Linked DNA regions of Homo sapiens: region 2 is linked to region 1. Evidence: fine-mapped expression QTL. Tissue or cell type: monocytes. Region 1 holds a variant in brackets; the other region holds the start of a gene. All regions are shown on one strand. Distances are from middle to middle.

Evidence for each region. PIP is the estimated chance that this variant, and not a neighbour inherited with it, causes the effect.
Region 2: IDH3A starts here. The variant in region 1 is fine-mapped to the expression of IDH3A in monocytes (Fairfax 2014, PIP 0.95).

Annotation. Positions count from the first base shown.
Region 1 is chr15:78,166,706-78,174,808 of GRCh38, forward strand. It overlaps IDH3A (isocitrate dehydrogenase (NAD(+)) 3 catalytic subunit alpha), which reads left to right. Exons shown (of 11, transcript NM_005530.3): 11 at 2,217-5,240. The coding sequence ends at 2,300. ACSBG1 (acyl-CoA synthetase bubblegum family member 1) reads right to left here. Exons shown (of 14, transcript NM_015162.5): 12 at 7,680-7,819; 13 at 6,888-7,134; 14 at 763-4,824. The coding sequence ends at 4,739. Among named protein-coding and RNA genes, the nearest start is that of IDH3A, 21 kb to the left of the region's middle. RefSeq lists an enhancer at 827-1,126. The variant C/T (reference allele first, on the strand shown) is at 3,471.
Region 2 is chr15:78,144,998-78,153,100 of GRCh38, forward strand. IDH3A (isocitrate dehydrogenase (NAD(+)) 3 catalytic subunit alpha) reads left to right here and starts at 4,365. Exons shown (of 11, transcript NM_005530.3): 1 at 4,365-4,433. The coding sequence starts at 4,407. It overlaps LOC124903534 (a long non-coding RNA gene), which reads right to left and starts at 4,222. Exons shown (of 2, transcript XR_007064725.1): 1 at 4,111-4,222; 2 at 1-2,735. RefSeq lists a silencer at 4,325-4,904.

The DNA of each region.
Region 1 (8,103 bases):
ACTGCAACCTGCACCTCCCGGGTTCAAGCAGTTCTCCTGCCTCAGCCTCCCTAGTAGCTGGGATTACAGGCGTGTGCCACCACACCCAGCTAATTTTTGTATTTTTAGTAGAGATGGGGTTTCACCATGCTGGCCAGGTTGGTCTCGAACTCCTGAGCTCAAGTGATCCTCCCGCCCCAGCCTCCCAAAGTGCTGGGATTACAGGCATGAGCCACCACACCCGGCCAAGTTCATTGATTTTTATAGACAACTTTTTACTCTTCACAACAAACGTCTGTTGAGTGTACCTTATAAGGTGTGAAGAGTAAAATGATGAATAGGGTAAGATGCTGAGCCTCAAGGAGCTGGGAATCTAGTGGCAGATACAGATGCAGATGTACCTCTAATACAATAGTCTTATATGTTACACTGTGTGCATCTATAATACAAAAGCAATACAGAAGTTTTATAAAAGTAATAACTAATATTAATTGAATACTTATGCAACTTTTAAGTTCTTTATATATCATCTCAGCAAAGTTTTTCTATAACTCTTTGAAGTAGATGCTATAATTCCATTTTATAGATGAGGAAACTGAGGTACAGAGAGAATAAATAATATGTCCAAGGTTTTACAGCTCCTAAATGACCCAAGTTGGTATTAACACGCAGTCTGGGCCTTACCCAACAAGCTCCACCGCCTCGGTAAGCAATTGTGGCCTGTGGAAGAAGTGTCGCGGGCTATTCCGAAGTTAGAGGAAATAATGCACTTGAAGACTCATCCCTAATTTGAGGTCCTTTTTAACAAAAATTGTGAAAAATATGCATAACATAAAATTTGCCATTTTAGCCGTATTTAGGTATACAGTTCAATAATGTTAAGTACATTCACATTGTAATGTAACCATCACCATCAGTCATCTCCAGACCAGTTTCATTTTCTCAAACTGAGACTCTGCACCCGTTAAACAGTAACTTTCCCTTCCCCCTCCCATCCTCTGACACCTGCCATTCTGCTTCCTGTCTCTATGAATTTGACTACTCTAGGTACCTCATGTAAGTGGAATCATACAGTATTTGTCCTTTGAGTCTGGCTTATTTCACTTAGCGTAATATCTTCAAAGTTGGTCCCTTCTTTTAAAAAAATTCTGTAATTTGAAATTATATCGTGTGGCCAAAATACAAGAAATTCAGGCTTGTTTTTAACAGCCTGATAGTCACATTGGAGGTCATATGATTTTCTTATTCTTTAAAGTTATATTTGGGAAGTTATAATCTACAGCCCAGTAGAGAGGTGCCTGAATTACATAGTGGGCCCTTTTATTGTGTAGGATGGAAAGATAAAGAGAATTAAATATATTGGGGTCTGTATGCAGGAAAGAAAGGATAAGCTGGTAGAACAGATCAGTTGTATGGGAGGCTTTCTTTCCTAAAGAGGGAGGTTTAAGAGTTAATGATTTAGGCAGGTGTGGTGGTGCATGCCTGTAGTTGCAGCTATAGGCTGAGGCAGGAGGATCACCTTAGCCTCTGAGTTCAAGACCAGCCTGGGCCACATAGTGAGACCCCGTCTCTTAAAAAAAAAAAAAAGAGTTAATGATTTAAATATTTCTTTCGTATTTGTGTCCCAGCCTCCAAAAATAGATCAGATACAAAAATTAGTTGGGTATGGTGGCATGCACTTGTAATTCCAGCTATTCAGGACGCTGAGGCAGGAGAATCGCTTGAACCCAGGAGGCAGAGGTTGTGGTGAGCTGGGATCGTGCCACTGCACTCCAGCCTGGGCAACAGAGTGAGACTCCATCTAAAAAAAAAATAATAATAAAAACAAAAATAGATCAAAATATGTCTCAGGTCTATTCCTGAGACATATTTCCCAAGGATTTTTATGAAACTTCTTATTTAGATTCGCTTTTATTTAAATATCCATGACCAACTAATCTGGGTTAGGGTCTATTGTGTGAACAAAGGGAAAATTTTGGTAAAGCTCCCTGCCTCCCTTTGCATCAAGAGCACCTTATTCTTTGCAGAGTGCTGTTGTATACACTATGAGATTGGATCCCGATCCTCCTGGGCTGGGTAGATGGTGGTGGAGTGGTTCCTCACTTTGAAATGAGGAACTAAATGAAAGAGCAGCCGAGTAACTTGCCCAGGTGGCATCTCACTGAGGGCTTTAAAATCTCCTTGGTTTAGTTTAGTTTGCGGATACATCTTTTATTTTTGCTTTTTCCTTTTCTCAGAGCTTGACAAAAGATTTGGGAGGCAATGCAAAATGCTCAGACTTCACAGAGGAAATCTGTCGCCGAGTAAAAGATTTAGATTAACACTTCTACAACTGGCATTTACATCAGTCACTCTAAATGGACACCACATGAACCTCTGTTTAGAATACCTACGTATGTATGCATTGGTTTGCTTGTTTCTTGACAGTACATTTTTAGATCTGGCCTTTTCTTAACAAAATCTGTGCAAAAGATGCAGGTGGATGTCCCTAGGTCTGTTTTCAAAGAACTTTTTCCAAGTGCTTGTTTTATTTATTAAGTGTCTACCTGGTAAATGTTTTTTTTGTAAACTCTGAGTGGACTGTATCATTTGCTATTCTAAACCATTTTACACTTAAGTTAAAATAGTTTCTCTTCAGCTGTAAATAACAGGATACAGAATTAACAAGAGAAAATGTCTAACTTTTTAAGAAAAACCTTATTTTCTTCGGTTTTTGAAAAACATAATGGAAATAAAACAGGATATTGACATAATAGCACAAAATGACACTCTTCTAAAACTAAATGGGCACAAGAGAATTTTCCTGGGAAAGTTCACATCAAAAAGAGTGAATGTGGTATATTTCTAAATGATATGGAAAATAGAGACAGATTTGTCCTTTACAGAAATTACTGAGTGTGAATAAAAACTTCAGATCCAAGAAATATATAATGAGAGATATAATTTTTGTTAATAAGACAAAGGTAATATATTGGATACAAAGACACAAATGTATTGTGTGTTCAATTATTTTGTTGTCTTGAGATTTAATATTCTTTCCAAGAGCTTTTAATGAAGCAGAGAGCTAGTACTTCATTTTCACTGGATACATTTTCAGCATCATGAGTTGTCACAGCCTCTGAGCCCCTGATCTGAAGCCAGAAGGGCTGAGTGTATTGTAAACTTATTCTTGCATGTTGCTGTCTGGGAATGGACCACACTACAGCAGGTAGTTCTGGGGGCGATACTGCCGAAAGGCCCGAACACATGTATTTTGGCTGCAATTGAGGAACTTGGGATGCTATTAATTTTGTATTTCAGCAACTGCCCCTTCTCCTATCCCAAAGCACCAATTACTGCCCTCTGCCTCAGCAGTACCAGTATAAGATGACATTCCAAAGACTGGAGGCAACTCAGCCTGAGTTAATTCACAAAATTATGCCATGCTGGGGCTTGAGCTTGAGCTTGGGCTTAGGCTTGGGCTCAGCTTTTGACCCTCAGGCATCTCCTTT[C/T]CCTTCCTGTCTTCCTCTCCCTTCTCCTCTGCTGCAGCATGATTTTCTTAATCTTCAGACACTCACTATTTTCATGAACAGTTACCCTCTGTCCCCACAACCAAAGACAACTCATGGCCTCCTTTGGCCCTTGTGTAACATTGCAAACCTGTGGCTTTGCAAAATGTACCCAGGTCACAAGGGGATTTTTTTTTTTTTAGCAATGATATCCCTGTCTGGGTCACTTTTTAAGCTTGTAACCGCCCCCCCAGACTTATAATCTTAAATGTATTTTCCTTTGTTTAAGCTGCTGCTTCCTCTGTTTCATTGGATTGTGCCAGTTATCAGTGGCTCTTGGGTTCAAAGTAATAAAGAATTCCAAAACTGAGATGTTTGCTTTCTCTACCTGTTTCCTGTTCAGATGCCTTCGGTCATTTTGGCTCAGCTTGCTACTGAGAATGGCTGCTTCCCGTATTCAGAATGGAAGTGGGGTGGTCTGGTGGCGACAGGCTAACGTAGAGCTGGCTGCTTTTATGAGAATGCGCCACTTGACCCCATCCTGCACCTTTGTTTATTCCAGGGCACTAATGGTCACTCGCATGCCCGCTGTGCACAGTCCTGTGAGTTAAATGCCCACTACTCTCTGCACTGGTCCCACCTGCTCAATTGACAAAAAAAATCAGGTCCTTGTTGACAGTTCTGTTAAAAGGTTTAATATTCAAATTATACATTAAATAGAATCAAACAGGCAGCAGCAGTTTTATTAAGCATCAAGTCAGTTGGCATGTGGGTGGCGGAGTGCCTGGTAATGGAATAATAGGGTCGGCGATGCCCGCCAAGATTCCAGAGTAAGTCAGGTCGCTAGGTGAGTTGTGACTGATTGCTTTTCCTGCAGCGCACGTGAGCAGTATCAGCCATCTCTCTCCTACCCGCTCCACAGCCTACTGCTGGCTGTCCTGTATGTGAGCTAGCAGCTTTTTAATCTACCTGGAACTAAGGCCAAAAATTATCAGCCCTTTCGTTCTGGAAGGAGAGCTGATCTCATTTGTCACCTGAACAAAAAGCAATACTTAAACTGAATTAAAACTACCCACACGTGAAGCTTCTTGGAATTGTCAGCTATTGTTGGCGTAAGACCTGGTAAATGTAGAGCCAGTGCTGTGCCCTGACCTGGAGATCTAACAGACTTGGCAGAAATGCCTGTGCCCAGACTGAAGAGACCTGGGGCTCAGGAAGAGGCTCGGAACGCCTGCCCTCTATTCTATAGAAACTGCAGGCATAGGCCCTGATTACATTTTTTGCTCTTGGTAAAAGGAGTCAATGATACCTTTGTACTTCTCCAAAACTGTGAGCCGTTTCAGTTTCATCGTGGGACCTAAAAGGGAAATGAGAAGAAATGAGTGAGGCCCAGGCTCTGAGAACTCTGAGAATGTGTGTGGTAAAGACTCACACTCAGTCCTATATATAACTCAGGAATTAAGCCAGATAATCAGGACCGTCAGTAGCCAGCCTCCAAGACAGTGATCGCTCCTGGTATTCATATGGCTTGTGTGTAGTCTCCTGTGTTATACCACTGGTTGTGGCCAGTGGAGTATAGATGAAGGGTTGGTATGTCACCTCTGAGAATAGGTTATAAAAGATCAGTTTCTTTTATACACATAGGAAAGTAGTGTAAGCTACATCTGCCTTTTCCTTGACCTGTACCCAGTTTTGACCCTCAGTCCATTTTCTCTGAAATGGATTTATTTGTTCCATCTCTTGAATGAATAAATTGTTGAAGCAATTAAAAAATAGACTAGGTTTCTGTCTTGGGCTTTCTCTTGGACCATTCTTCCTGGGCAAGCCGGCTGCCATGTTGTGAGGATACACAGCCCATGAGAGGCCCACTGGCCACACACGGATGTTTCTGGCCAGCAGACAGCAAGGAGCTGAGGCCTGCCGACAGCCACGTAAGTGAGCGCGGAGGTGAGCCTCAGCTGCAAGTGACTGCACCCAGCTCACATTGACTGTAATCCCGTGAGACCCAAGCCAGAACCACTCAGCTAAGCTGTTCCTGGATTCTTGACCCATAGAAATGTGGATAATAAATGTTTACTGCTTTAGGCTGCTACATTTTTGGGGTCATTTGTTACACAGCAATGTATTAGATAGCTAGTACACATCATCTCTGCATTTTTGTGAACGTTTATACAACGTTGGACATTATGCTTTGATGGTTGTGATGGGGGTAGGGGAAGCCCAGGTTATGGGGAGCCTCTGCCATGGTCTTTATGAGAGGTCTTCCCCTAATTACTTTTCTTAACCTTGATTTATCCCCCAAAAGCAAGTTTGAAAGAGCTCTGATTTGAGGTCCTGGGTAGCTTAAAGTGCCTAACTCACTCTTGACTGTGTAACTGGAAACTTTCTGTGTTAAAGTCATTATATTAACTGCTTAGTGAAGACATCTTCTGTCTCTCTGACCTTGCGTTCAATATGCTGGCAGCAGACAGCCAGATAAGCTCAAGGTCTCTGATTGCAGCTCAGCTTTGCTGTAGACAATTGCATCTGGGTTCAGCCGTGATGGATTTGAGGGAATCACACTGGCATAACCATTTCTACCTCTCCTGTTCTATGAACATCCCATGAACATCTCTTGGCTACAGCCAAGAGTGACTTCAGCTGAGGCTGCACCAGAGCCCTCTCCTGGTTCTGTGGGCAGTGGTCCGGAACAGCCTTATCCCTTTGTCACACAAGCTGACTTTCCGGAAGATCACAGTACTCTCACCCCTAGAACCACGTGACTCCAGGCTGAACACTAGCAGGGCCTTGGTGTTGGCCTGGTAGTTCCATTGTGATTTTCGGAGAAAACAGTCCCATAGTCAAGGCCAAGTTAAATGTCATGTTCAGATTAGAAAGTTCTAGCACATATCAGCTGGGCGCAGTGGCTCACGCCTGTAATCCCAGCACTTTGGGAGGCCGAGGCGGGCGGATCACCTGAGGTCGGGAGTTCGAGACCAGCCTGACCAACATGGAGAAACCATGTCTCTACTAAAAATACAAAATTAGCCGGGCATGGTGGCCCATGCCTGTAATCCCAGCTACTCGGGAGGCTGAGGCAGGAGAATCACTTGAACCCGCGAGGTGCAGGTTGCAGTGAGCCAAGGTCGTGCCATTGCTCTCTAGCCTGGGTGACACAGCGAGACTCCATCTCAAAAAAAAAAAAAAAAAAAAAAAAAGGAAGTTCTAGCACATATCTTATACATTCAACAGACTCCACATAACCACAAGCCCATGCATGGAGCCATCAATGTCCTCTAACAGGAAGTAGATGGGTGTCACCCAGATTCCTGCCATGACCTTCTCTTTGCCGTGGCTGCTTCCTAACAGGCACCTCCTAGGCACTGCCATGGCCTCTGCCTTCCCACACAGCCCTTGCAATGGTGAAAAGGAAAAACCTACCCAACTCTCCACCCGAAATGGAGAAGTCTCTCTCGAGAATGGCCCACTTCTGGATGTGGTAGGGCCGGGCCGCCGCGTTCATGTTGACCCTCCGGATCCCCTCTTCGATGGCCTGGTACACGGCCTCATCCTTCTTCTCTATGATCTCGGACACTGTGGTGGCTCTGCTGCCCACCCTCTGGCAGAACTCCATAGCTTGTTCAGTCAGATTATCAGTCTGGTCAGAGGTGTCTGGGTCCAGAGTGCACTGAAAAGCCAGAGATCAGATGAGGACCAAGCCTTACCCAACAAGACGTAAGCCCTGGTCCTGGAGGAGGTCTTACTGCTGTCGGCAAGGGTGTGAATCATGTGAGCTCTGTTTCAAAGAGACGGTTCTAGAATGAGTAGCTGCTACTGTGTTGAGCCTCGTGTTATTGTGGAAGGAGCAGTGATCTGAGAATTAGAAGAGCTCGGTCAGTGACGTCATTGTCTGTAAAGCAGGGACGGTAACTCCTGCCTGTCTACCACCCTGGGGTCCAAGTACCTGCAGAGAGCAATGAGGGAGGGCAGCAGCACTTTGTAGACGGGAAAGTGCCAGTAACATGTAAAGGATCATCACGGTGGCTTATGTGGGACAGAAGGAATTTCCACGTGCCACAGTTTTTCCTACAGTGCAGGCAGCACGGACTTGAGTCATTCCAGAATGAAGCCATGAGATCTGGATGTGCCCTGTGCTGAATGTGGCTTCTGCCAGCCAGACCCACAGACCCCCTCACTGGCTGCTCCTTCTGAGCTGGAGCCCCCCAGACACACCTTCAAGGTGAGCAGCATGGACAGGAACTTCCTCTGGTCCCCAATGAGCATGGCGTTGCTGATGATGGGCAGCTCCATCTTCACGGCCTCCTCGATGGGCACAGGGGGCACATTCTCCCCACCAGCTGTGATGATTAATTCTGGGGAGGCAAGGCCAGGCCCCCGGCACAGAATGTAGTCCAGGTGCCCCAGCTGAACCACAACCCAAGCCTCAACCACAACCCGGAAGCCTCAGCACAGCTGGAGATGCCCCCTTTCTGGGAGCCAAGAAGCAGTGGCAGGCCCTCCAAAGCAACTCACACCTGCTTGGGGGCTGGTGGCAGCACCCCGACGACAAATGCTCACCCAAGTTTCCCTCTCCTCGGCTTGTCATCCACGACTCAGCCTGCTCAGACATCTCATCCATGGCCCCCTTCTGCCAGTC
Region 2 (8,103 bases), 22 kb before region 1:
GCATTGCATTTTATTAATATTTTTAAATAAAAATAATTTTTTTTAGAAATTTGCATGCATTTGACTATTGTTAAGATTGAACATTTATTTAAAAGTTTATTTGGCTGTGAATTGATTATTCAGGTCCTTTTCCCGTTTTGTTTTGTTTTTTTTTTTCCCGAGACGGAGTCTTACTCAGTCACCCAGGCTGGAGTGCAGTGGTGTGATCTCGCCTCACTGCAACTTCCACCTCCCAGGTTCAAGTGATTCTCCTGCCTCAGCCTCCCCAGTAGCTGGGACTACAGGTGTGCACCACCATGCCTCCCTAAGTTTTGTATTTTTAGTAGAGAGGGGGTTTTACTATGTTAACCAGGCTGGTCTTGACCTCCTGACCTTGTGATCTGCCCGCCTCGGCCTCCAAAAGTGCTGGGATTACAGGAATGAGCCACCATGCCCGGCCTATGTTTTTTGTTTTGTTTTGTTTGAGACAGAGTCTTACTCTGTCGCCCAGGCTGGAGTGCAGTGGCACGATCTCGGCTCACTGCAACCTCGGCCTCCCAGGTTCAAGCAGTTCTCTGCCTCAGCCTCCTTTGTAGCTGGGATTACAGGTACCCGCCACCACGCCCAGCTAATTTTTTGTATTTTTAGTAGAGACAGGCTTTCACCATCTTGGCCAGGCTGGTCTTGAACTCCGGACCTCGTGATCCACCCACCTCTGCCTCCCAAAGTGCTGGGATTACAGGCGTGAGCCACCGCGCCCAGTCCCCTTTTCCCATTTATTTACTAAAGTCCTAATACCTTCTTTACCAATTTGTTGGATCTTTTCCTAACTTAGAGATAGGGATGAACCCTTTGCCAATCATATCTTTAATGAAAATAATATTTTAAATAAAGTAGGAAAACTGTTGAAATGAATTTCTTTTGTAACAAAAAATAAACATTTGGTATGTGAATAATGTATATTCTGTTTTGCTGATTTATTCACTTAAAAATTGCTATCTTGATTTTATTATTTATTTATTTGACACAGAGTCTCGCTCTGTCACCCAGGTTGGAGTGCAGTGGTGCGATCTTGGATCACTGCAATCTCCGCCTCCCAGGTTCAAGTGATTCTCCTGCCTCAGCGTCCTGAGTAGCTGGGACTACAGATGCACACCACCACCCCTGGCTAATTTTTGTTACTTTTAGGAGAGATGGGGTTTCACCATATTGGCCAGGCTGGTCTCAAACTCCTGACCTCAGGCGATCCACCCACCTCTGCCTCCCAAAGTGCTGCGATTACAGGAGTGAGCCACCGCACCTGGCCTCTTGATTTTAAAATCTTTTTTTTTTTCCTTAGAGTGAAGCACACCTGGATTGGATAGTGCTTGTTATTACAGATAAGGGTGCACTTTCTAGATTCTTCTCCTGAGTGGCAAAGTTTTCCCACCGTCTTGTCCAAACATACTTTGCTGATGGTATCTCTGGGCACTACACAGTGCAAGGGACAAGGAAAAAGGGCTTTTCCAGAGGAGAGTGACCTGCATCTTGGAGGAACTCTAGAACATGTTCGAGGAATGGTGACTGGGGCTTCTGGAGCCAAGGGCTGACTCAGGGAACAGATCTCAGCTCAAGGTGAGGTCATTTCTGTTTCCTGCATGTCCCTCCAGCTGCTGACATTTTACCTCTTCAAGGACTGATTCAAATGCCATCTCCATTGTGCAATCTTCCTTGATCACCCCCCAACTTCCATCTGAGACTTCTGAGTTTCTCCCTCACTAGATCTGGAGGGTAGGAGTGGGTCTTGTTCATTTTTTGTTCTCACAGTGCACTTGCTAGAGAATGGCTTGGGAAGCCTTTGTAGGATTGGACTGGCCCTCAGCGAAAGTTCAGCAGTTAGGAGAACTGCCTTAGTACTTAGGAAGCTTCCTAGTGTGAATGCCAGCATCATCACTTACTAGCTGTACTTCAGTTTTCTCATAGGGTTGTTGTGAAGATTAAATGAAGACTGGACAAAGTCAGTCAATGTTTATTTCACAATCACTGAGCAGCAAGTATTCCTTGTGTACCAGTCTCTGTTCCAGAAACAACGTCATAAGAGATCATCAAGATTATCTCTGGACTTAAGGCATATCTTCTCTCTATCTCTTTTGAGACAGAGTCTCGCTCTGTCACCCAGACTGGAGTGCAGTGGCATGATCTCGGCTCACTGCAACCTCTGCCTCGTGGGTTCAAGCGATTCTGATGCCTCAGTCTCCTGAGTCACTGGGATTATAGGCATGTGCCAACACGCCCAACTAATTTTTGTATTTTTAGTAGAGACAGGGTTTTGCCATGTTGGCCAGGCTGGTCTCCAACTCCTGACTTCAAGTGATCCACCTGCGTCGGCCACCCAAAGTGTTGGGATTACAGGCGTGAGTCACCACGCCTGGCCCAAAGCTTATCTTCTCAATGGCACACAGCAGAAGAGAATGTGATGTTTCCCAGGAGAGGTGGGAGCCAAGTGCTAGAGGGCTCTGAGTAAGGAGAGGGGGACACATTCGTGGGTCTTGGGGGCTTTTACAACTTTTACTACTTCCCAACATGTAAGCTGAGTCTTGACAAGGAGCTAGAATTTCAGCCAGTAGAAGTGGGGCAAGAGGGCATTGAGGCTGAGGGAATGGCACGACCATAGGCACGGAGAGGTAAAATATGGGAAGCATTTGGGGGCTGGCCAGCAGTCCTAGTTGGCAGGCGCTCCAGGTCTTTGGGGCTGGAAGGAGTGGTGGGAAATCAGGCTGAAAAAAGACAGTGGTGTGAGAGGAGAGTGCAAGGGAGAGCCAGGAGGTTTCAGAGCCGGGGCGAGCCCTGGTCAGAGCTGTGCCTGAAGGGGAGGGCAGGTTGGCAGGTGAAGAGGCTGTTGTAAGAGCCTGGGCCTGAGGTGGTCTGGCCCGAAGGAGGGCAGGGGTGACATTGGGGATGGAGGAACTGTGGGAGAACACTTCAGGATGGGACTGCCAGGGCCTGATGAGGGGAAGGGGCCCAATGGAAAGGGGTTGATAAAAGCCCTCCTTCCTGACAAGGCCACAGACTTAGCTGCAGTTTATTATTTAGGTCATAAAAGCTCTTGGGATCACTTCTCTACTGCACTCATCACCTCTCTGGGTGGGTAGGCAGCTCCTCTCTGGATAGAACTCTTCCCAGGGTAGGGTAGCAGAGACCTGGTTTAAACACCTGACCTCCCCTGGCACCCAGCTAGAGGCCTGGCCATCAGCAGGAACTCAGGAGTTTGTGATGGACAGGGAGAGGACAAGGGGAAAGGTGAGTATGGATGTTATTTCTTCAGAGAAGCATTCCCTGACCTCCAGGTTAGGTTTGAATCAGGTTGCCTGATTTTGCCTTGCCATAGCTCCTTGCTCTTTTGCTTCTTGGCGCAACAGTTTTAATGACATGTGTGTGACACTTGATTGAAGCCTGTCTTTCCTACTGGACACTAAGCCCCAGCACTTAAAACAGTGCCTGGTGTCTAGTTGACCCTCAGAAATATTTGTTGAGCTAAATAGACAGATTAGTAGTTGCCTGGGATTGAGGACAGGAGCGGGATTGACTATAAACGGACACAAGGAACATTTTCATATGCTCAAAAACTGGATTGTGGTGATGGTTGTGCAACTGTTTACATTTACTAAAAATCATCAAACTGTACACTTACAGTGAGTAAATGTTACTATATATACATTATACCTCAATAAAGCTGGTAAAAAATAAAATTCGGCCAGTCGCAGTGGCTCACTTTGTGAGCCTGGGGCAAGCAGATCGCTTGAACTCTGGAGTTCCAGACCAGCCTGAGCAACATAGCGAGGCCCCATCTCTACGGAGAAAAAAAAAAAAAAAAAAAAAGAAAAAGAAAAGAAAAAACAAAGTTGGGCTGGGCTTAGTAATTACTTGATCCCAGGAGGTCGAGGCTTTGTAGTGAACCTGTTCGCGCTACTGCACTCCAGCCTGGGCGACAGAGTGAGACCCGGTCTCAAAAAAAAAAAAAAAATCAAAATTTGTGGAATAAGAAAATTATGTGTCTTTCTCCACGGGATTGTAAATTCTATGAGGAGCGCTATATCCCCAAGATCCTAGAACATTAATCAGCACCTAGTAGGTGTGGAACAAACGTCTTACCTTAACAGCGAGTCAATGAACCAGGGAGGGGAGGAAGAAGCTTTCCCGGAGATGCCGGCCCCTCAGTTTCCGGGTTCGCCTGGCGCTCAGCCAGGCCAGTCACAGAGAGACGAGCCCGGCGATTCGCCAGCGGAATGTCCAGGGGCGGGGCAGCGAGCGAGCGCGAAGCAATCCTGAGGCGGTCTAGGGGGCGGGGCGTTCAGGGGGCGTGGCCGTGCAGGGGCGGGCTCCGAGCGTGGGGTGGGCGCTTGCGCACTGCCGCTGCGGCTGTTGCTGCGGAGCCAGGAGGGGAAGCGATGGCTGGGCCCGCGTGGATCTCTAAGGTGAGCGCTGGCAGGCCGGCGTGTGGCAGGCAGGCAGGCCGCGAGGGCTGGCAGGAGAGCCGGTCGCGTGCCGGGTGTGGGCGGGCGCGTGGGCCAGACAGGGAGGCGGTGGCTGCCCGCGGGGACAGCTTGGGAGCCGGTCCTGGTCGCCCGTGCCCCGCGCTCCGTGGCCGGCTCGCAGTGTATGGGCCGCCCCGGGCCGGGTCAGCAGCGCAGAGGCGGGGACGGCGTCAAGGTCAAGGCGGGGGGGCGCCGGCCCTGCTCCTGCCGAGACCCGGCTGCCGTCACCCGCATCCGCCCAGGCCAGAGCCCAGGCTTCGCGCCGAGCCCGGGAAGGTCACGGGAGCCTCTGTCCCGGCTCCGCCATCCGGGCCGCTTCCCCGGCTGCGGCCCTGCTGCGGGACTGATCCCCTCAGCACTGCCCACACCTCTCATCCGCTGTCTGCGCGGCCCTTGGCCGGGGAACCGCAGGTGCCACGGGCACTGGCGTTGAGCTTGGGAGGTTTTCCCAGGTGAGAGAATCCGGGGGCCCTTTTCCCTATCAGATTGTTTTCCCTTTGGCGCTCTTCCCAGTCAGACCTCTAGTGCTCTTGTAGCTATTTCCCCTTCATAGGATAGGGCATCTTACACCTCGGAATTACCGTCTGAACCTTCGGAGAGAGAGACCAGCAGAGCCTTCCTTTTACCTTTCATTGGTGGGAATCCTGCAATCTGGAGCGCTTTAGCTCTCCTTGACAGCTCAGATGCCAGAGCTGGAAAGGGTTTCAGATCATCTATGCAGTTCCGTAGCTTCTCAGTGGAACTAACCTGTGCCTGAAGAAGAATTTGCTCAAGGTCACACAGGAGGTCGGTGTCAGAGCAGGGAGAGGAACCTAGGTGTCTTGGTTCCCATTTCCCAAGGTCACATAGCAAATGATGGTACAGGCCATCAGGCCTCAAGTCTCCTGTTGCTATGAAAGGGTGGTCCCCTAGAAATCTATAAACAATTTAACGTTTTTCTGTAAGTTTGATACTACTTTTCTCCCATTTTTTCGGTTTAAAGAGAGGTCCAGAGATGCACTGTTATTTAAGGAAAAGATCTCTGTACTGGAATTTAGGAGTCTCAGATTTAAATCCTAGCAATGCCACTGATTGGCTGTGTGACCCTAAGCAAATTACTAAACATCTCTAAGCCTTAATATGCCCATCTGTGAATATCTATACTTACATCACAGAATTGTTTGAGTATTAAATAAAATAATGTATGTGAAAGCACTTGGTATGTACAGAAGGAAAACAAAAATCTGAAGCTTTCTTATCAATATGTTTATCTGTCTCCAACAGACAGTGGTTTTCATGGGCATCATTAACTGGTTTTTTTGTTCAATAACTAGATTCTACTTTGTCACCCTCTTCAGACCCAGATTTGCTTGTGATGATAACTCTTATGTCACATTTGCTCCTAAAAGTAAAGCAACTTCTGTGTCACTGTGAAAACTGAACTCAGTCCTTTAATCTCTGAACTTACATTTAACACCCAATTCATCTTTGGTAGGTACATTTGCCTTCACAGTGAGGCACTAAAGCAACACTTGATAATGATTGTGCTGGTAAATCTGTTTTGCCTTTAGTGTGATCTGCATGAAAAAACCCTCATAGTAGGTATTCAGAAAGTGTTGGGTTGTGGAGTCAGAAGATGAGGTTCTCTGACATGCACTCCCTGTGTGACCTTTGGCAGAGTCATTTGACTTCTGGGCCAGCTTCTCACTTTAGGGATTGGAGCAGAAGGTGGCTCAGAGGCTGACCCCAGGATGGTGGAGGTGCTGAGCTGGATGCCGGTTTCAATCAGGACAGTTCCTCTGTTGAGTTTCCATTTCAGGTTGTGGCCAGGCATGGTGGCTCATGCCTGTAATTCTAGCACTTTGGGAGGCCAAAGTGGGCGGATCACTTGAGGTCGGGAGTTCAAGACCAGCCTGGCCAACATGGCGAAACCCCATCTCTACTAAAAATACAAAAATTTGCTGGGCGTGGTGGCGCACGCCTGTAATCCCAGCTACTCGGGAGGCTGAGGCAGGAGAGTCACTTGAACCCAGGAGGTGGAGGCTGCGGTGAGAGGAGATCATGCTCCTACCTGGGTAACAGCAAGACTCTGTCTCAAAAAAAAAAAAGATTTTTTTTTTAAAACCCATCTCAGAACCCATGTACAACACTATTTACATGTTTTTAAGTTAAAAAGGAAATGAGTTGTGGATTAAGATGGCCCACGACCTGAAGTCCAAAGTTCAGGGTTTTGGTCCAGGCTTCATGAACCTGGCCTCAGTTTCCTCATCTGAAAAGTGCCAATAATGCCTATCTCTACAGGTTTTATATAAATAAAATGATGTGAGATATATATATATATATGCATATGAGTATTCTATAAAGTAGAAGTCCTGCCATCTCAGCCTTCCATGAAGCTGGGACTACTGGTGTGTGCCACCATACCTGGCTAACATTTAAAATTTTTTTTGTAGAGGTAGGGTCTCACTCTGTTGTCTAGGCTGATTGGTCAGGTCTTCTGTCACAGAGACATAAGCTAGTTTTGTGTGAATGTCTTTTCCCTCTTTTTTGGGCTGGGAGAGGAGAAAGGACTCATGTCAATTTTTTTTTTTTTTTTTTTTTTTTTTGAGACAGAGTTTTGCTCCTGTTGCCCAGGCTGGAGTGGAATGGTGAGATCTTGGCTCACTGCAACCTCCACCTCCTGGGTTCAAGCGATTCTCCTGCCTGAGCCTCCCAAGTAGCTGGGATTACAGGCACCCACCATCACACCCAGCTGATTTTTGTATTTTTATTAGAGACAGGGTTTCACCATGTTGGCCAGGCTGGTCTTGAACCCTGACCTCAGGTGATCCACCGGCCTCAGCCTCCCAAAGTGCTGGGATTACAAGCGTGAGGCACTGCGCCCGGCCTTTTTTTTTTTTTTTTTTTTGAGATGGAGTTTTGCTCTTGTCACCCAGGCTAGAGTGCAATGGCGCGATCTTGGCTCACCGCAACCTCTGCCTCCTGGGTTCAAGTGATTCTCCTCCCTCAGCCTCCTGAATAGCTGGGATTACAGGCATGTGCCACCACGCCTGGCTAATTTTGTATTTTTAGTAGAGACAGGGTTTCTCCATGTTAGTCAGGCTGGTCTTGAACTCCTGACCTCAGGTGATTTGCCTGCCTCAGCCTCCCAAAGTGCTGGGATTACAGGCGTGAGCCACCGCATCCGGCCTCATGTCACTTTTATGCTCTGCTTGTCACGAAGTAACCTTTAAATGGTGCTTTGGAAAATTTTATTTTACTTAAAGTTCTGGGTCATTGTGATGACTTAGGTGCAGTACTGCTTTATTCTAAGATCATGCAAGAGAGATGACAAACATGGAAAAGACTGGTCCTTAAAGAAGATCATTGCAAGTATTAAGGCTACTTGTTGGCTTGGAAACTCTTCAGATAGAGATGTGACTGAGGCTGGACTCAGTTTTGTTTGATTGTTGTTTTGTTTTTTTTTAAATTATTGAATACCTTCTATGAGCCAGGGACTGTTCTAGACACTAGATACAACAGTGAACAAAACACAAATCCTTACACTCCTGGGTTTACATTGCTGCCCCCAGCATATGCAGGTAGGATGGGTTTACATTTTAAAATCAGTTGTTTGAGTCGGGTCTTTTTC